Linked DNA regions of Homo sapiens. The protein of the gene in region 3 purifies or fractionates together with the protein of the main gene of each other region. This does not show direct contact. Each region holds a gene or a part of one and is shown on either strand. Other genes may lie near its edges.

The links.
Region 1: the proteins of SGSH (region 3) and FBXO21 purify together in Homo sapiens (co-immunoprecipitation; 2 studies listed by BioGRID and IntAct, with this or other methods). This does not show direct contact.
Region 2: the proteins of SGSH (region 3) and NGLY1 purify together in Homo sapiens (co-immunoprecipitation; 2 studies listed by BioGRID and IntAct, with this or other methods). This does not show direct contact.

Annotation. Positions count from the first base shown.
Region 1 is NC_000012.12:117,173,453-117,180,486, forward strand, and holds part of FBXO21 (F-box only protein 21), read right to left. Parts: intron 4,190-7,034; coding exon 4,068-4,189; intron 1,346-4,067; coding exon 1,199-1,345; intron 890-1,198; coding exon 753-889; intron 1-752. UniProt on the Homo sapiens protein: Substrate-recognition component of the SCF (SKP1-CUL1-F-box protein)-type E3 ubiquitin ligase complex.
Region 2 is NC_000003.12:25,759,426-25,766,459, forward strand, and holds part of NGLY1 (peptide-N(4)-(N-acetyl-beta-glucosaminyl)asparagine amidase), read right to left. Parts: intron 4,887-7,034; coding exon 4,641-4,886; intron 1-4,640. UniProt on the Homo sapiens protein: Specifically deglycosylates the denatured form of N-linked glycoproteins in the cytoplasm and assists their proteasome-mediated degradation. Cleaves the beta-aspartyl-glucosamine (GlcNAc) of the glycan and the amide side chain of Asn, converting Asn to Asp.
Region 3 is NC_000017.11:80,210,334-80,217,333, forward strand, and holds part of SGSH (N-sulphoglucosamine sulphohydrolase isoform 1 precursor), read right to left. Parts: intron 6,860-7,000; coding exon 6,699-6,859; intron 4,806-6,698; coding exon 4,700-4,805; intron 4,433-4,699; coding exon 4,282-4,432; intron 3,996-4,281; coding exon 3,839-3,995; intron 3,553-3,838; coding exon 3,471-3,552; intron 1,942-3,470; coding exon 1,738-1,941; exon of another isoform or gene 1,591-1,737; coding exon of another isoform or gene 1,536-1,590; intron 855-1,535; coding exon of another isoform or gene 715-854; exon of another isoform or gene 679-714; coding exon 119-678; 3' UTR 1-118. UniProt on the Homo sapiens protein: Catalyzes a step in lysosomal heparan sulfate degradation.

The sequences.
Region 1 (7,034 bases), on a different chromosome or scaffold from region 3:
AATAAAATGAAAGTAGCAGACAGGGCAACAAACTAAATATGAAAATGGAACTAGGCAGAAAGCAAATAAAAAATAAATATAACAGATGCAAACTTGACACAGCTGGGCCACAGGTTCTCCCAAATGGCTAGAGGCCAGTGCAAAGAGGACCCTGATTAGTTTTACAGTTTAGTGTTCACAAGATACAAACTGACCAAACAGAGTCAGAGAAATATCTATTTTTAGTCAAAAATTTATCTCAAGGGTTTGCATATGGAGGATACTCCATGAGGAAACAGATAAACTCCACAACAATATCCTTACAGCAGAAGGAAAAATAAGTTTCATCGAGCACTCAGAGATGGAAGGCATAGTACTGACCTTCAAGAATGTACGGTCCATCAGAGAGAAGCTTAAAAAAATACATATAGGATGGGCACAGTGGCTCACACCTATAATCCCAGCGCTTTGGGAGGCCAAGGCAGGAGGATCACTTGAGGCCAGGAGTTTGAGACCAGGCTGGGCAACATAGCAAGACCTCATTTCTACAAAAAATAAAAAATTAGCCGGGTGTGGTGGCATGTAGTCCTAGCTACTCAGGAGGGTGCGGCGGCAAGATCGCCTGAGCCCAGGAGTTTGAGGTTGCGGTAAGCTATGATCGCGCCACTGCATTCCAGCCTGAGCAACAGAGCGAGACCCTGTCTCTAAAAACAGAAAAAAAAAGTTACTATACCTATATTACTATACCCATATATTACTGTACCTATATTTACCTGATGCATATATAAGTTGAGGGCATTATAGTAATCCATTCGATTCCCCTTGAACTTCAGTTGGTCGTAAAGGACATAGTTCATGGCATCCAGCACCTGGCTCTGGAGTTCTATTTCCATTATCATGGATGATTCACCTGAAACACAGAGATCTACTCTGGGACCCAAGCACAAAAAAGGTTGTGACAGGTGCCCCAAACAACTCACAACATGAAGACATTGGCAATGGCCTAACAATATTAATCAAGTGTTGCCAATCTAGGAAGCAGAAGGCAGTATGTATTTGAAGTGTTTTAGGTTCAACACTTCAACCAGGTAAACACGTGGTCACGTCATTTTATCACTTTTTCATGACATAATGGCAGCACACTAACAAATCTCTCAAATTAACCAATTCCTCTAGATTTTCTTTCATAAATACAGCTGGATCCAAAGCAATGCCACACCTGCCTTGAAGGCCAAGCTGGGGTGGCGACTGTTTATGCCCCGAAGGGTTTTGCAAACAAGCTCCACGATGCTGTCAATTTGGGCCTGGATGTCTTTGAGGCTGATGTCGGAGAGAGGATTGCAGTACTGGTCAATATATACAGCACCTGAAAATGAACAAGAATTACCGAATAAATTCTCACGTTACCCTTTTCTTATTAGTTTGCAATTTTACCCTGGACATCCTGGGACATGGCTCTTTACACCATCCCACTGGACAAGCTTCATGTTTTGGCCATGGACCTTGCTGCTAACACACTGAGAAGGAGCAACAAACATTTTCATAACAAAGTAGCTTTAACTTTAAAAAAAAAAATACATAAATCAAACTTCTCTCAGAAGTCATGGACTAAAAAACTGCGTGGTATATGGCGCAGTTTCATGTTCTATTACAAAGAGAAGTAAATGACATCAAGGAGATCTTTTCAAGCTACTTCTCTCTCCCTAGCTGTTATAGGTTCCAAATCCAACAACTCTGAAAACTTAATGGTATAAGGCAGTTCCTTTAAAAAAACAAAACAACAAAAAAAAACAACTTGAAAGCCCTCCATGACAGATGTGCCATTTCAACAAATTACACATCTCAAGGGTGAACAGTAAATGGATTCTGGAGCTAACCCCACTTTCCAATGAGATAAACAGTTATGCTCGGGGAACCTACAGCTGAAAAGCTGTGCAGAGCACACTGCAGACAGTCTCTTAAGAATCACTCCTCTTCACAGTCTTAGGTAATTTTGGAAGCAGAGACTGAAGGGCTAACAGCATCATTTGGGTAAGGACACCGTTATGTGGGAAGCTCTCGAGTCACCTTAAATTAAAGAGATCTCAGACCAGCTCAGAACCTGGACTCCCTTACCAATGCTCCAGAGCTCAAAGCAGTTGAACGGGTGTCAAGACACCTCGACCCCAGTCCCAGTGTTGCCACCAGCCAGGGACTGTCTCCTCGGCCTCCGAGGGCCCCAGCTTCCCTACCTGGAAGCTGAAGCAGTTTATGCTGCACATTTCTGAAGTCCGTTCCTTCCTAATGCTATGATTCCCAGACTTCTTCGATGGCATCAGCATTATTCCAGTCAGTCACCAAGGATCAGAAACTTGGAGAGCCAACTGTCATTCACTCAACTACTAAACAACTTCCAATGGCTTCTCAATGCTTATGACACTGATGTGGAAGTTCTTTGAAAATTATAACTTTGTATTTAGAAAATGAAAAAGGAGTATTTGTTTTCATACATAAGCTACAAAAAAATATACTATTCTTAACTGTGAAATAAACAGAAGATAGGATGCTTCTCAACTCCAGTATACAAATGAGGGGATTCTAGCAGTGAGAATTTATTTTAATCAACTGAAACAGATGTTTCATTTCCTTTTGGATGATACTAGGTTTTCATACACTTGATAAACATTTACACTAAGCATTGTGAGGTATACAGTGATCCTAACACAAGGACCACAACACGGGAAGCTTAGGGACTAGTTACAGAAACAAATGTATACACAGGAAACAGAAAAAATGCAAGACAGCTTACTATTAAATGCTACTGTAGCTCTGAGGTGAGTAAAATCTCCAAGTAGTCAGTGGAAATTTAATGGAAGTGAGGCTTGAGCTGAATTATGGAGGGGGAGTAGGATTTTCAAGAGGGATTATGAGAAGGAGGGATATCATGAATGAGGAAGTGAAGCCAGGTGTATTTGTGGGGCACCAGTCTAGACAATGGCCTGGCTGGAGCAAATGGGACATCCTGGAGAGTACGGAGCAAAGGTCTGGACCAGATTATGCAGGGCATTGAAAAGCAGGTAGAGGTTAAATATAAAAGGGAAATCAGTTGTCCACATTGCAGGTTTCACATGCAGTGGTGAAGGCTAGATTTCTAATGGGGCTGGCACTGGTATTTTGGCTGACTTGGAGGGAAGGGGGGGTAATGTTCATGAAAGCAAGTATTACTCAGAAAGTTGTTGCCAGGAGAGGTGGCCATAGACTGCATGAGACTAGTTACAGAAGCCAGCCAGGTGTGGTGGCACTTGAGCACGGGAGTTTGAATCTAGCATAGGTGACATAGCAAGACCCCGTCTCTAAAAATAAATACATTTTTTTTAAAAAAAGGAATAGTAACAGAATGGGAACATGACTATGAGATACACTGGAATGGAAAAAAAAATCAACAATCTGGTAAAACATCAGAAGTAGGGAATAAAAGTAAACGACCAGTCATATTTGTATTTCATAACCATAATTTATGGGAATGTTTGTGTAATATTGTAGGAATTCAAAATCATTTTAAAAAAAATGGAAGTCTCACTTTGTTCCTGTTCAACTTAATAAGAACAAAAAGATTCTCCACTCCCTTCATCTTGCCTGTCCACTCAACTTCTTCCTTCTCACCTTTCATTACGGACAAGCAGACTCACTGATGCCCAAGAACATTCTGTCCTCAATAAACTCCAACCTGAGAGGTTAAGGGATTTACTCAAGGTCACAGGGAGACAAAATTGGATACATTTACTTCTGATTTGGAAATGATCATTAAAGCTCGGAAAAACAGGAATTTACTTCATTAGCTAAAGTATCACTCTCACATTTTAAGCCAATGATGCATCTTTAAAAAACACTATTTCTTTAGTGGACTTTGATAAAATCTTAGCTCTAAATTTAATAGTTTGAACTACCTCATTGATCAGGCCCTATAATCCAACCTGCAGAAGCCCACGCAACATGATTTGCTTTTTCACTTCTTTACCACAAGGAACACAATTCCCTCTGCTGGTCTTAAAAAACTAATCAGTTACCTACAGAAATACTACTGTCCACATATATGGGAAAAGACCCACCTTCAAGATACGACTCATAGTCATCTGGCTGCTGAAGAAAGGCCTTAAGATTATTTAAGATCTTCTGTTGCCGCAGGTAGTAAAGAATTTTTTTTGCGTAGTATTTCCAGGTCAAAGCTTTTCTGGAAACAAAAAGTCAGTAAGAATTAAGATTTGAAAACTTTCAGTTATCTATTTTTCACATTACACTAACATACCATGTAGTTTGCTTAACAAGAAAAATATAATTGGTTCATTCTCTTATAATAATTATAATGGAAATAGCAGTCTTTGAATTGTAATATAATACTAAATTAGTTGTACTGAAATCTGAGGAACAGTTATCTGCCTGGCTTCAGACTTACTTGCCTGTATCTTTCATAAAAGGAAATGGAAGAGCAGCCTGAAAAAGGAATTGAGCTGGGGGAGGTTCAGAAGATGGGGAGGCATCTAGAACCTTTTGCTGGTCCCCCTGCTTGGGCCACTTGGGCCTGGGCACTCACTGCCATGGTGAGTTCCTCACGGTTTCACATATTATGAAAACTCCTATTTTCCAGACCAGAGTTCTCTCTTGAACTCTAGACCTTTGTATCAACTACTATCCATCTACTCCACATCCCACTCAGATAGCTGAGCACTTTCATCTTTCTTCCCCTCCCAGAGTCACCCTCATCTCTGATCAAGGCATCTCCATCATTCTAGTGAGGCATAAAACCTGCGAGTCATCCTGGATGCCTTGCTTTCTCTCATAAGCCATACTTAAGACCTGTCAGCCAATGCTATCGGTACTATCTTCAAATTACATCCAAAATGTGCACACTTCCCAATTACTCCCACACACCACCATCAGCATTCCTGTGTTGCAGCAACATCCTCCTACCTCAGCTTCCCGCTTCAGACCTGGCCCCTCCACAGTCCATCCTCAATACGGCAGCCAGAGCACTGCAGTAACACGTACGGTCACGCCACCCAATCCTCGCCTCCAAGTCTCCAGCGGTTTCCCACCTCGCTCCAAGAAAAAGCCCAAGTCCTAAGGAGGACTTAAAAGGTCTCTTGAACTCTCGCCCCATTACCTCTCTGACCCCAATTCCTGCCACTCCCCCTCAGTCCAGCCACCCAAGCATTCCAGCTGTTCCTTTACTGTCTGGCGGGTGCTCACCTTAGTGCCCTGTTCTTCTGCCTGGAACATTCTCTCCAGAGACTGCAGTCTGTTCTCACCTTCTCCTAGGTTTCAACTCAAATGTCCCCTTGAGTAAGGCCCCCTACATTATTTTAAATGGTACCCCCTCACCACTCCCCTGCCTTCTTCCCCGATTATATTTCTCTATAGCATGTTTCATTTTCTAATGTAACCAATTTCTTAGTGCCCATCTCGCCCACTACAGTATAAGCCCCATGAAGGCAGGGATTTTTTTTGTGTTGTTCACTGCTGTATCCCTAGTGCCTAGAATAGCATCTGGCACATAGTAGATGTTCCATAACACTTGTTGAGTGGATAAAATTCTTCACCACATATCCCAAATACATATGGGGATTATAAGAAGCAGGAGAGAGACAGTGATGAAACTTATCTGGCTGACATCATGAAGAAACAAACAACTTGCCAATCTTGAGAGAGGTCAATGAAAATCTGCAGAATGATCTATGTTTCATCTACTTTTTAACCTTTGAGTTGTAAAATATATCAATCTAGAAAATTGTGTGAAACAAACAAGTAGCTTAATGAATCATTACAAGGCACATTCCTGGATCTAACACTCTTGCCAAGAAAGAAAACTTTGCAAACGGCCAAGAAGCCCTCCGGGGCCCCCCGCAACAATAATCACAAACCACACCTCTATGGTCATCACTTTCTTGCTTTTCTCTTTAGTATTACCATGAAATATACATCCCTAAACAGGCGAGTCTGTTTTGATGCCTTCTAAATCTCTTAATCTACAGGATCCTCCTCCATCTTTTTTTTTTCCCTTGCATTTTATTTGTTGAAGAACCTGGGTTGTTTGACCTGCAGTTTCCCATCGTCTGAAATTTGCTGACTGTACCCACATGATGTAGTTTAACATGTTCTTCTGTCTTCTGATCTCCTGTAAATTGGATGTAGAGGCTACATGAGATACAGATTCCATTAATTTAGCAAGATAATTTCATAGAAGGTAGTGCATTCTCCCATCAGGAGGCAATAATGCCTGGGTGTTTCTTTTGTGATGTCAGCAGCACTGCTACTCAATGTCTTGATCTGTTCATTCATTTGAGGTTACGAAGTGGTGATATTAAAATTCAATCAACCCTTCTTAATTCATTAGCTGGGATACTTCTATAAGGAAAAACCTCCCCGTCTATTATTTGATCCCCCATGATACAGTACATGGAAAAGGCAGGATAAATGCTCATATCTTCTATTTACAATTTTTCAAAACAATGATATGGGCTTCTATTTATCCTTCAAAGGTGACCAATTAATTTTTTAGTATTATGGACTCAGAGAGACAAGCATATTCGATGCATTTCAATCCATTCCTGTTATTATCCACACTGATGCTCTAACTGTCACATCTTTGGCCACTGGAAGCCTCTTCATATTGGTTCCTCAATACTTCCGACATAAAGTAGTGTCAGTTTTCTTACTATCTGGTTAGGTTTCCAGGATGCACCACCAGGCTCATCTTTTAAAATCCTTGCATTGGACATACAATCAGTCTTTCTCCAAAAACCCTGGCTTCTTTTGTGGAAAATGTTGTATCAAGATGACAATCTGGAAACCAGGGAAGATCAATTCCACTAGGTTGGTTATTATTTCTAGATCTTTTCAGCAAACAGACGTAGGAAGCCTAGTGTTGATGTGCACGTGTGTGTACATGTACATATGCACATGCACTTACATATACCTACATGTATTTAAATATAAAATACCTTTTGAGTTCACACTGGCACTTCTAATTCAAAAATATATGTCTCTGACCTTCTTCTATCTTATATCTATGTCTTCTT
Region 2 (7,034 bases), on a different chromosome or scaffold from region 3:
ACCAAGAAGGTAAGAATTCATCCGGAGTATTTTTATTTTCAATTTAATTCTTTTCAATCTGGAAATTACCTCATTCATTGTAGTTTTAATGGCACTCAAAATATTTTAAACAATAAAGTTTATATTCTTGCCTTATTTCTTTACATATTCATTGGCACAACTCTGAAAAAACTAAGTCATAAAAATAGAAAGTTGCTGATTACATGGTGATTACAGCAGCTGGGTAACCATGTACTAATGCTACATAAGGCAGCAGTTAATTGAGAGACTAAAGTTACTTAGAGTACAAATGGAAGTTTAAAATGTGAAATCTGTTGGTTTTAGATCAAAGAGATTTTTCCTTCACTAATCATACTTCCAATTATTTTGATTTCTGATATGAGATATATTTAAGACTTCATAAGAAAAAAGTACAATGTGTATAATTTTGTCAAATCGTGGTAATTAATCAATGGAAGTTAGATTAGCAAATTCACTTCTTTAGTTAAAAAAACACACACACACACACACACACACACAACAAATCAAGGCTTGAGCCTACTTGCCCTCTCTTTAATTTTATGCAACCCTTTATTTTGAGGCTTTAAAATTTAGAACCTGTTTTTAGACATAAAAGTTTTGTTATTTTAAATATGTTTTAATCAACTTGTGACTTCAATAAACTTATTTAAAGAAAAACTTTTCTATTTATAAAGGTAATACATGTTGCTTCAAAAAATATTTCAGAAAATACTCAATAGTATAAATAATATGAAAGCACCCATAATTTCATCACTCAGAGTACATTATGGTTAAGATGTTTGTGTATGGCCTTCCAAACCTTTAAAAAAATGAACATATATATATATGTATGTGTGTGTGTATGTTTCTAATAAGAAAAATCAAAATATTACACATATACAGACAACATATGTTGTTTAATTTTGGAATTCTCAGTTTACCTTTTTTCCATATAATAATGTTATTCATGTCAAAACAGATCACATCTTCATTTTTAACATACGCTAAGTATGCTGATATAAGGACACAATGTAATCCCCTATCAGAGGGCATGCAAGTATTAACTTTTAAGAGTGGTAGGTTCATGAAAAAGAAAGTGGATGTTTAAATCTTATGTTCAAATAGGTTTCTTCTCTTACAAAGCTAGCACACAGGCCGGGCACGGTGGCTCACGCCTGTAACCCAGCACTTTGGGAGGCCAAGGTGGGCGGATCACCTGAGGTTGGGAGTTCGAGACCAGCCTGACCAACATGGAGAAACCCCGTCTCTACTAAAAATACTAAAACTAGCCAGACGTGGTGGCACATGCCTGTAATCCCAGCTACTACGGAGGCTGAGGCAGGAGAATCACTTGAACCCAGGAGGCAGAAGTTGCGGTGAGCCGAGATCACGCCATTGCACTCCAGCCTGGGCAACAAGAGTGAAACTCTGTCTCAAAAAAAAAAAAAAAAAAAAAAAAAAAAAAAAAAAAAAAAAAAAAAAAAAAAAAAAAAAAGCTCGCACACAGATCTAGACTAAGACTAAGAGGTTGCCTTATTGTTGGTTTATGAGATAAAATTAGTTTTAAAATTAACTAGTTCGTTTTATTATTTATCATTATCTGATAATATATGACTTTTATAATTTCAATGAAATAATCACAAATTATGATAATTGGTTTAAATAAACACATACCCATATATAAACTGGCAGTAATTTCTAGAGTGATAAAGAGTTGATGAAAAGTTCCTAACAATTTCATATACATACTCAAAGTAGTCATGTGCTAAATAAAAGCATACATTTAGATTAGCTGAGTAAAAAGTACTAAATGTATATTTTAAGCATATTATACTTCAGAATCACATTTTCAACCGAGATAAAGTTGTGAAGCTGGAAACATAATGCTTCTAACATTCTGAGGTACCATGTCATTGAAAAATTGTCCTTGCTGTTTTGAATCTGCTTTTGGAAGGCAATGGGTATAAAAATAAAGGATTATCAGAAAGTTACTTCCATTAGGAACACTAAACACTTAGCATGTACAACCAGCAAGTTTGAAAATCAATTAAGTCATCAGGCAAATGCAAATTAAAACCAAAATGAACTACTACTTAACAACCACTAAAATGGGTATACTAAAAAAGACAGTAACAATGGTTGGTGAGGATACTAAGAAACGGGAAGCCTCACATATTTCTGATGATAAAGTAAAATGGTACAATTTTGAAAAACAGCTTGGTAATTTCTTAAAAACATAAATATAAACTTACCATACAACCCAGTGGTTCCACTCCTAGGAATCTACTCAAGAGAAATAAAAACATATGTCTACACAAAAATTTGTATGTGAATGTTCACAGCAGCATTATTCATAATAGGCAAACATGGGAAACAACCCAAATGTCCATCAACTGATGAATGGAAACAATATGTGGCATATCCTTAAAATGGAATATTATTCAACAATAAAAAGGAACAAAATACTGATATATCCTGCAATACGAAGAACTTCAAAAATGTTACACAAAGAGCTAGAAACAAAAGATTACATACTATAATTCTATTAACATAAAATGTCCAGAAAAAGTAGCAAGATTAACTTTCTAACAATCACCACCACTATCATCATTTATTGAGTATCAATATATTCCAGTATTTTGTATCTTAAAAGCTTACTGGCAAACGTCAACATCAGTGACTATCATCTTAACTTATACATCGACATTTTACTTGATATAGTTTTAACCAAAAAAAAAAAAGTTATAAGTTCACTAGGACTTATCTAGTTTATACACAGGTTAAATGCTTTAAAAAATATCTCTCTGGCTCCCTGACTTTGGTACATTTTAATTCTCAGTATCTCCACTCAAAATGGGCAAGGTAGAAGAAAACTGTCAAATTCTGTAGTATAGCAACTAATGATGAAAGCATAATTAACAAAATACTTTAAAGAAATACATATATTCCAGTGATCCACGAATAACCAAGAGTTGTCTATGAAAAACAAGATTCATTCTAATTTCTCTCAACTTCAACACAGAAGATATTTTGTGTGAAGGACTAGAGTAGTAAGAATTGATATACACTAGCCTACTAATAGCATACACCTTTGAGAAAATTTATTTTCTTCTACACTAGAATGTGTTTTGCCAACAGAATGACATTCTGTTTTTAGTGTAGTGTTTAGAGGCTTTCTGGTGACGGACAGGATTTTAAAGACCTGGAACTATATCTGAATTGTAAGATTAAGAACTTAAAAAAAGGGCTGGGTGTGGTGGTGCACATCTGTAATCCAGCACTTTGGGAGGCCAAGGCAGGTGGATCACTTGAGGTCAGGAGTTTTGAGACCAGCCTGGCACACATGGAGAAACCCCGTCTCTACTAAAAACACAAAAAATTAGCCAAGTGTGGTGGCAGGTGCCTATAATCCCAGCTACTCGGGAGGCGCAGGCTATAGAATCTCTTGAACCCAGGAGGTGGGGGTTGCAGTGAGCCAAGATCGTGCCATTGCATTCTAGCCTGGGCAACAAGAGTGAAACTCCGTCTCAAAAAGAAGAAAAAACAAAAATTAGCCAGGAGAGATGGTGCATGCCTTTATTTCCAGAAACTCAGGAGGCTGAGGCACGAGAATCACTTCAACCTGGGAGGCAGAGGTTGCAGTGAGCCAAGATTTTGCCACTGTACTACAGCCTGGACAGAATGAGACTCTGTCTCAAAAAAAGAAAAAAACAAAACAAAAGAAAAGAAGTTTAAACAAGATTAAGAAAATGTGAATGGCTTTCCTGAGCCAGGACACTAACAAAATACTACTTAGCCCAGGAAAGAGATATTTTGTAAAATAAAATGTTTGCAAGCTTTTTTGCAGATTGGTTAACTATGTGCATTTTAAACTATAATACTGCAATTAAAAAGATAAAGTAGGAAATCTTAAAAGATATATTCTAACACTGTAATTGGAAAACTCCTAAGAAAAGGTGTTAAAAACCAAGAAAGATGTTAAGTGAGCTTCTGTAACTGTACCAACCTTAACTGCAAAACTGATGAAGACCTAAGGTATTCAAAATGGAATGCACATGATCTCAGGGAGGGGCATAAAAATCCATTGAGGTGCTTGTTAGACTTACAGAAATATCACAAGAATTTTTCTGACAGTAAAAACTTAGGAGAAGAATATGTAAGGACCTTGGTCAAAAGAGATTTTTGTAAACAGGATAATTTCCTATCAAATGGAATCATTTCAGTTTATCAAGAATGCCTGTAAGTTTGACTTTAGTTCTTCACAAGTATATATGGTGTATATTAATAATAAAATTTCACTAATTTGCTAGCATCCACTATCATTAAATTAATGCATTCTTAATTACCTTAAACCTAAAGAAGCTTTTTTATTGAATTAAGGTATTGATAATGGTTGTGCTGTTGGAAATAACCCCCACAGTGAAAGGCAGCAGGTACAATTTAGATCAGAAGTATTAATGCAGTAGAGGAAATCTGACAATTTTTTAAAGAGCTGAAGAAATTTGGATGTTTTAGAGTTATAAGAACTAAGAACAAAATATGGGGCATAAATTCAGGAATAAATCATAACACATTCCAAAGCTTTTGCTGTTTCAACACTTTGAAAGAAACAGTTAAAGAAGGTTTAATTCTAACATTACCGTTGAAGCAGATGGTGGATCTGATGACTGCCCTTGACGGTTCCTTGTGTGCTGGTTTAACCCACTGGGATTTGAAGATGGTGTTGTAGGAAGCTGGGTACTGGCTGCAGGTTGCTGAGATGACTTTACTTTGTGGCTCTTATTTGAGCCATCCAGTCTGCTACTTCTCTCTATGGCAATCAGGTCACGAATTTTTTGCAGCTGCTCCACTGAAGCTTTTTTAGGAAAGATGAGATGTGTTTCTCCCTGGAATTTATAAAATTAAAAAAAATGTGAACCTTTGCTTTATGCAGTCATTCTTTTGTGCACACACACACAGAAATGTATAATGAAACCAATAATATAGAATGCATGTTTCTAAAATCATACTGTTTTCTTACCATTATGGTTCTTTTTAAATACAGCCTAAGGTAAATAATGCCTAAACATAAACCAGAAAATTAAAAAAAAAATTATCTCCTTTTTGGCATTTAATCCTTAGCCTATTTAATGTGGTTCAAAGGACTTTCAGGAAAAAATATTTGATCTTCTAGAAACAATAAGTCAGAAGGCCTCATAAGGGTTGCAAAAATGCATATTCCTATCCTCTCTGCAATAGTATATGATACTACTATTCTCTATGAAATTCCCTATGAAATAATAATGACAGTAGAGATACAGCCACACAAAAGAATCCAGGGTCACATAAAACCAACAAGAAGTTATCTAACAACCTTTGAATCTTGTTAATCTGAGTCTTTAAAGAATAGCTACATGATTAGAAGCCTGTGTATGGGGTCAACTAATTTTTCCACGATAACGAAAAGTACACCCTGATAGTCAATCCAAAACTATGGATGGTTAACAGTAATAGGAAGGTAATCCGAACAAAACAAAAGAAATAAAAATCATGTATTTCAGTAGTGACTCATTTAAAGAATACCTATAAATATGCTAAGAATGCTTTAAAATAAAATGCTACAACAAATTCTATAATGTAAAACAGTAAATTACTCAAAACAAGAAAAAAGGTGAAATGAAATGACAATGTATTTGATCAAATTTCCAGGTATTGAAAAGAAACAATGTTAAAAACAGTAATTTCTCCAACTGCAAACAAGATAAAAAGTTGCAGCTGGGCATGGTGGCTCACGCCTGTAATCCCAGCACTTTGGGAGGCTCACATGGGCAGATTACCTGAGGTCAGGGGTTCGAGACCAGCCTGGTCAACATGGCAAAACCCTGTCTCTACCAAAAATACAAAAATAAGCTGGGCATGGTGGCGGGTGCCTGTAATCCCAGCTACTTGGGAGGCTGAGGCAGGAGAATTGCTTGAACCTGGGAGGCAGAGGTGAGCTGAGATCGTGCCACTGCACTCCAGCCTAGGTGACAGAGCAGGACTCAGTCTCAAAAAAAAAAAAAAAAAAAAGTTGCAACAGTCTGTAGTACACAGACCTGCAGATCATGAGCATTTAAATTAAACTCCAAAATCGACAATATTACTGTATTTCCCTGGTGATGGCAGACCTACAGGAATCAACTGAACAAGACATTACTCAATGACATGAAAGTCAATTCCATCTGAATCCTTTTTAAAAAGCTGGATTAGACCAGCAAGCTCCACGTATGATTCATAATTGCTATAAAAAAGACAACTACAATGTATTGTCTTTGTGTGTTCTAAGTACTGTGCTAGGCATTTTTTTCTCTGAGGCAGGGTCTCCCTCTGTCACCCAGGCTGGAGTGCAGTGGAGTGATCAAAGCTATAACCTCAAACTCTTGGGCTCAAGCGATCTTCCATCCTCAGCCTCCCAGCAGCTAGGACTACAGGTGCATGCCACCACACCTGGATGATTTTTATTTTTTGGAGAGACAGGGGTCTCACTCTTTTGCCCAGGCTGGTCTCAAACTCCTAACCTCAAATGATCCTCCCACCTCAGCCTCCCAAAGCAAAATGCTGGGCGTTTTAAATACATCATCTCAAGTAATACAACTACCCTGAAAAGTAGGTATTAGATTAATACTTTTTTTTTTTTTGGAGACAGAGTTTTGCTCTTGTTGCCCAGTCTGGAGTGCAGTGGTGTGATCTCGGCTCACTGCAACCTCCACCTCCCAGGTTCAAGCAATTCTCCTGCCTCAGTCTCCCAAGTAGCTGGGATTACAGGCATGCGCCACCACACCTGGGTAATTTTTGTATTTTTTAGTAGAGACAGGATTTCACCACGTTGGTCAGGCTGGTCTCAAACTCCTGACTTCAGGTGATCCGCCCACCACAGCCTCCCAAAAAGCTGGGATTATAGGCGTGAGCCACCATTCCCGGCCAATACTCACATGAAAATACAAAGGCTCAGGGAAGTTAACCTGCTTGAAGCCACAGAACAACTGGCAGAGCAGGGATTCAGACTCCATGACCTT
Region 3 (7,000 bases):
GATGGGAGTGTGGACGGAAGGGCTGTTGCCACTACTCCCCAGGCTGGCCGGCCACACGGACACGTGTGGGATGTGTCTGGGACATGCCTGGGATGTGTGCACAGGCCTCCTGGGATGGTCACAGCTCATTGTGGAGGGGCTGGCACTGGGGAGAGAGCTTCTCCTCCAGGACGCCGTCGGGGGCGCACACCCAGGGGTCGTGGGTCTCCCACTGCCACTTGGCCAGCTGGTCCCGAAGCATCTCCAGAAGCTGAGCAAAGCGCGGGTCGGTGGCCAGGTTCTGGGTCTCGTGGGGGTCCCGGCTCCGGTCGTAGAGCTCCCAGCGCGCCCGGTAGTAGTAATGACGGAGGTCCTTGTACCAGCCCGTGGGCTGACCAGCTGTGGTGCGGTTCAGGAGGTCCTGGAAGGTGGGTGAGACGTAGAAGTCCTGGTCGATGGGAAAGGGCATCTTGAAGTTGAGGTTGTGCACGAGGCGGAAGTGCCGGTGCTGCACGGAGCGCATGGGGTAGGACATGGTGACCTCGTGGTGGCTCTGGCTGCCAAAGACGGTGGCCCAGAGGGGCTCGGCCTCCAGCGCCGGCAGGAGGGACCGGCCAGTGAGGTGGATGGTCTTCGAGCCAAAGATGGCGTAGCTGGGGTACGGGATCGAGAACCAATCCAAGATGGTGGGCGTGAGGTCTGGAAGGGACGCGGCATCTCAGAGCAGCAGAGCCCTCAGCACACAGGAGCTGCCCTCGGAAGGGCCGAACCTACGCCACTCTGGGCGGCTCCCTTCTCCAATCCAATCAGCAGCGGGAGGTGCCTTGTCGAGCCGACACCTCTCACCGCCACGTCATCTCTCTGGGCCTCAGTGCCTTGAATGGTATAACAAGAGGCCCTGATTCGGTGACATTTAGGATCCTTCTAAAATCCCATGGACTGGAAAAGAAGTCTCCTTTTTGGTAGCTCGTGTACTCCAGCCCCTGTGGTGGGTGTGGCCACAGTGCTCCTGGCTCATCATTTGGGGCCAGAGAGAGATGTGGGCCCCAAGAGAGATGTGGGCCGCGAGCTCGGAGGGAAAGGGAACCTGAGTTTCCTGCTGTCCCGGGCCCACCCCACCTGGAGGCTCTGCCAGGCAGTGGGCAGGACACACGAGCCTCTGCCCTGTGCCGAAGGGGTCACCCCGAGCCCCTCACAAAGTCTTCCTGCACCCGTGTCTTTGTCTGCACATCCATAACATGGGACTAGATGTCCTAGGTCTTTTTAGGAATGAGCAGGGTCATGAGGTGCTTTGGGTCCCCCAGGAAGGCAGGATGGGGTGCACGGATGCTCAGAGAGGGGTCCCCAGGCCCACAGTATCGGCATCACCTGGGAACTTGTCAGACATGCAAATTCTTGAGCCCGCCAAGATCTACTGAATCGGACACCCTGGGATTTGCAATTTGGATATTAACAAGCATCCCAGGTGATTCTGAAGCTCATCGGAGGTAGGCGGGGAAAAGGCAATGGTTTTGAAAGCAGCAGGATCCAGGCGAGAATCCTAGCTTAGTGCTTACCAGCTGTGCAATCCTGAGCAGCTTACTTCACCTCTCTGAGCCTCATTCTTTTCCTCTGTAGAGTGGGAGTGACAGTCCCTTCCTCACCCAGATGATATGAGAGCCACATTAGGTAATGGGTGTGGAGCAGCATCTGACAGGTCATGGCCCCGTCCCAGATCCACTCCCACACCTTTCCTGACGGAGACAGACAAAGGCATACCTAGGAGGCTCACGTAGGCCTCGCTGACTTGGCCCCAGCGTTTTGGGTGCTCCGGGGATGACACCAGTAAGGGTTCAGCAGTGCCCGGCCAGTACAGGTTGGTCCTGCCGCTGGGGAAGGGGATCCCGTTGTCGGACGTGAAGATCACCAGTGTGTCGTTCAGGACACCGGCGTCACGCAGCTCCTGGAGCACCAGTCCAACTCCTGTGGTGAGGGGCCGAGAAGCAGAGCTCAGCCGCAGACACGGAGGGAGGCAGCGGGTGGTGTGTGTAGACCCACCTGCTGCTGCATCCGGCCGCTGGGCTCCAGCGCTTTCCGGATTCGAAAGCACCCTGTAGTTCTTCCCAATGGCCCTGGCTCTTGCCCAGCTCTTGCCCAGCTCCGCCCAGCTCCCATTCCCTGAGCAGGCCTCGAATGGGCCTCCAGGGACTCCAGCCATCCCTTGGCACTTCTGTGTCACCCCCAGGCAGCTGCTCCCTGGTGCCCGCCGGCTTTTGAGTTCTCCGGAATCTCGTGTCTGTCCCATGGAGCAAATAGGGCAGGGGCCAGAGGACGAGGCTTCCTCTATACTCGCTCCTTCCCAGCTGGGGCCAGAGGACAAGGCTTCCTCTATACCCGCTCCTTCCCAGCTCACTAAGAATTAATGGCACCAATAGGGAAATGGCAAAGGTCCTGACCTCCTGTCGTCCCTGACCCCAAAAGACATGTGTGCTGGAATCTGTGAAGGGGTTCTTGTTTGGAAAGGGGAACTTCACGAATAAAGATCTTGGGACAAAATCATCCTGAAGTGCTCAGGTAGGCCCTAAACCCGACGGGGTCCTTATAAGAAGCGGAAACAGGCCGGGCGCGGTGCCTCACACCTGTAATCCCAGCACTTTGGGAGGCTGAGGTGGGCGGATCACGAGGTCAGGAGTTCAAGACCAGCCTGGCCAATGTGGTGAAACCCCGTCTCTACTAAAAATATAAAAATTAGCTGGGCATGGTGGCGTGCGGTGCGATTGCAGTCCTAGCTACTTTGGAGGCTGAGACAGAAAAATCGCTCGAACCTGGGAGGTGGTGGTTGTAGTGAGCCGAGATTGCGCCACTGCACTCCCGCGTGGGTGACAGAGCAAGACTCAGTCTCAAAAAAAAAAAAAAAGAAGAAGTGGAGACACAAAGAGGAGACACAGGAAAAAAGGCCATGTGAAGGCTTCAGCGGGGATGGGGGCGATTCTGCCGCCAGCCCAGGAACGCCCAGCACTGGCACAGCCCCCAGAAGTTGGAAGAGGAAAGGCAGGGTCTCCCCTAGGCCTTCAGGGGAGCATGGCCCTGCTGACACCTTGATTTCAAACTTCTGGCCTCCTGAACTGTGGGAGTACAAATTTTGGTTGCTGTAAGCCATCAACCACAAAAAACTCACAGACCTCAAGATCTCCATCTGCATATGCTAAGGAACTCCAAACCCCCAAATCTGACCCAGGTCCTGTGACTGGAAATATCTGAAGTCTTCACGCAACCTCTGGGGCACCCGAAGGCCCCAGCCCAGGAGCAGGTCCACATCAGGGCAGCCCCGGGGTTGGGTCCTGATGCCACCCACAGGCCCCTCCTCTCAATGTGGGCTCTGCCAGCTGCAGCACAGGGCCTGCCACACTGGGACCCTCACCCACATTATGCCGTGACCTAAGAGGGCGCTGGCCCAGGATGGGGGACCCCGGCCGTGGCACCCCCTCCAGTGCCCGGTTCTGCAAGCCCACCTTGGTCCATGCGGCCGACGGTGGTGTACTGAGCGGCCAGGTCGGCTCGGGCTGCCGGGGTGTTGGGGACGAAGTAAGGCACCTGGGGCAGGCGGTGGGGAGCCAGGCTTAGAACAGACAGACCGGGGGAGCGGTGTCCAGCCTTCTCCCCGGGGCCTCCTGCAAATGGGTTAGCCCAGAACAGCCTCACTCCGGACCACCCCGTCTCTCTACGGTTCTCTCTGTGGCCCCGAGGTTGGGAACCTGAATCCGATTTGGTCAGAGCCTCTTTCTTCATCATCTAGGGCCAGGGCTGCAAGCTCGTAGGAGGCCAGGGTCCCCGACCCAGGGCTGACGGGCGTCCTGAAACACAGGAGGGGCCGTCCTACCAGCACGTCCAGTGGGTCGTAGGCCTGGGGGGTCCAGTCTGGGATACGACCCATGCCGCTCTCTCCGTTGCCAAACTTCTCACAGAAGGTTCCGTACTGGGGCTGGGAGTGCCCACAGCGGTGGGGGTCGTGGAAGGCGACGTAGAGGAAGAAAGGCCTGCACGGGAGGAGGCTCATTGCCAAGGCTGCGGGGCCACTGCCACGTGGCACAGGAAGCCCCTCGGCTCTGCCTCCTCCTCTGTATCTGGAAGTCAACCTGTGACCCTCACTGCCTCAGTTTCCCCACGTCCCTTCTCCCTCTGACCAGGCTAACTCGAGTACCTGGAACCTTCTCCCCTGCCCCCATTCGAGCCACGTGGGGGCCCATGCATCCCGCCGGAAGACTCCGGGCTGTGCTCTGGTACCGGCCGCCAGGGGGAAGGGGCAGGGGCCCCGACTCATACCGGTCATCCTGAGTCTGCAGGAATTTCCGGACGAGCAGCTTAATTCTAGTGATGTTCCGCCCCACCTGGAGGACGGAGCCATTCTCCTCCGTGTACGCAAAGTCAAACGGGTACACGGTCTCCGGCCCCACGTGCTTCTTCCCGATGATGCCTGGGCGGGAAGAGAGGCCTGGCCAGAGTCCCTTCAGCCTCCCAACCCTTTCTGCTCCCTTCTCTGCCCCTCTCGGCCCTAAGCGCACTGTGGGTTCTCGTGGACACACAGCCCAGCCAGGAGACCCAGGCCCAGATCCTTTGGGACAAGAGCTAAGGGCAGGCCACGGGGGCTGAGCGTGCCTTGGTACAAGGTGCCGAACCTCCTGGGCTCTGGCCTGGCCTCTGTGCCTCACCCCACGCCCTGTCCTCGGCACGGGGTCCTCACCTGTGCGCACACCAGCTTGGCTGAGCAGCAGCGGCAGGCTCCGCACCTTGTCGAAGGAGTTGAAGTGGTGCACGTCCTGGTGCAGCCCGTACATCCCATTCTGATGCTGCCAGCAAAGGCGCATGAGGTCCGGGGCCCCCGGACAGCCAGAGCCCGCCTGCCGCACCTGTTCTCCCACGGCCCTCCCATCCCCAGGGGCCTTCTCGGGGCCCTGATTTAGACTTCGAGTGGCCAGCACCCAGAGACACTGGCTGTACCTCCCACTCCCTGCCCGATAGGCCCATGGGTCCCTCCCGTGAAAGGAGGACTTCGCCAGAAAGAAGGGGACCTGCAGGGCGTGCACCGACACGAGGGTGGCCTTGATGTTCTTTTTGCGTATCCGTACTTTTGAACTCTTCTGTTATGATCACACGTTACAGAGTGAAAAAGACAGGGTCAGGCCTTGTTTTATTACCTAGTTATTTTATATTGTAAAAGATGTGTACATTTTAAAAACTCAGACTGCCGGCCGGGCGTGGTGGCTCACGCCTGTAATCCCGGCACTTTGGGAGGCCAACGCAGGTGGATCACGAGGTCAGGAGATGGAGACCAGCCTGGCCAACATGGTGAAACCTCGTCTCTACTAAAAATACAAAAATTAGCTGGGCGTGGTGGCGGGCGCCTGTAGTCCCAGCTACTCGGGAGGCCGAGGTAGGAGAATGGCTTGAATCTGGGAGGTGGAGGTTGCAGTGAGCCGAGATCACACCACTGCACTCCAGCCTGGGCAACAGAGTGAGACTAAAAGAACAAGTGTCCTTAAACACCCATGTTCATAGCAGCTTTATTCACAACAGCCAAAGGGTAGCAGCAACCCAAGTGCCCACTGACGGATGAATATGGAGAAGCAAAATACGGGGCCCATCCATCCACTGGAATATGAGTCAGCCCTGAAGAGGAGGGAAGTTCTGACTCGTGCTACAGCATATGGTTAACCCTGAGGACATTGTGCTGAGTGAAGTAAGGACACAAAAGGGGGGCCGGGCTCGGTGGCTCACGCCTGTAATCCCAGCACTTTGGGAGGTCGAGGCGGGCAGATCACTTGAGGCCAGGAGTTCGAAACCAGCCTGACCAACATGATGAAACCCCATCTCTACTAAAAATACAAAAATTAGACAGGCGTGGTGGCGCGCACCTGTAATCCCAGCTACTCGGGAGGCTGAGGCAGGAGACTCGCTGGAACCGGGGAGGCAGAGGCTGCAGTGAGCCACGATCGCACCACAGCACTCCAGCCTGGGTGACAGAGTGAGACTCCAACTCAAAAAAAAAAAGGACTAGTCCTGTGTGATTCCACTCTTATGTGGCCCCTGGAGCAGTCAGATTCATAGAGACAGGGGATGGGGAGGGAGAATGTGGAGCTGGTGTTTCATGGGACAGAGCTTCTGTTTGGGTAGATGGAAAAGTTCTGGAGATGGATGGTGGTGATGGCTGCATAACACTGTGAATGCACTTAATGCCCCGGAACTGTGCGCTGAAAAATGGCTAAGATGGGAATGTTGATGTTTGTGCATTTTACCACAGTAAAATAGGAGCATGTGTGCCTTAACGGTGTCCGCTCCCTGCACCATGGCGTTCCTGGGACACTGTGGCCATGGCGGTTCACGCTGAGTGAGCCCACCAGGCCTCGCACTAAGTGTTTACATACAAAGCATTAGCCCCGCCAATCTCCATAACTAGAGTGGCATCTCATTACACCCACCATCTTACAGATGAGGAAACTGAGGCACAAGGAGGTAGGTGACTTGCTCAAGGCCACACACAGCAGTGCAGCCAGGGCTGGCGGGTGAGTCGGAGCCCCTAGTCTGCACTCACAGCCATAGGCTGTGCCTCCTCCTGGAGGTGGGAGGGAAAGTGGGCAACACCCCCCGGGATCCCAGGGATGGGAGACGTGGCAGAGGCCTGGGCCCCGGACGCAGCCTGTCTACTCCCTGCCCACCCCCTCCTCCCGCCCCTTGCACCTCACCTGGGGCAGGCCAGTGAGGAGGCTGGCGCGGCTGGGAGAGCAGCTGCTGACCGAGGTGAAGGCATTGCGAAAGAGGAGGCTGCGGCGGGCCAAGGCGTCCAGGTGCGGGGTGGCGATGGCGCTGTTGTTGTACGCGCCACTCTCAAAGCCTCCGTCATCCGCTGCGTGAGGTGGGAGACAGAGAGTGCACGGTCGGCTGCGGTCACGAGAAACAGCACTGGGAGTGAGGGAGGCTGGGACTGTGATGCCAGAAGGCGAGACACCCAGGTGGGCATGGTACTGGCTCAGTGTGAACACTCAGC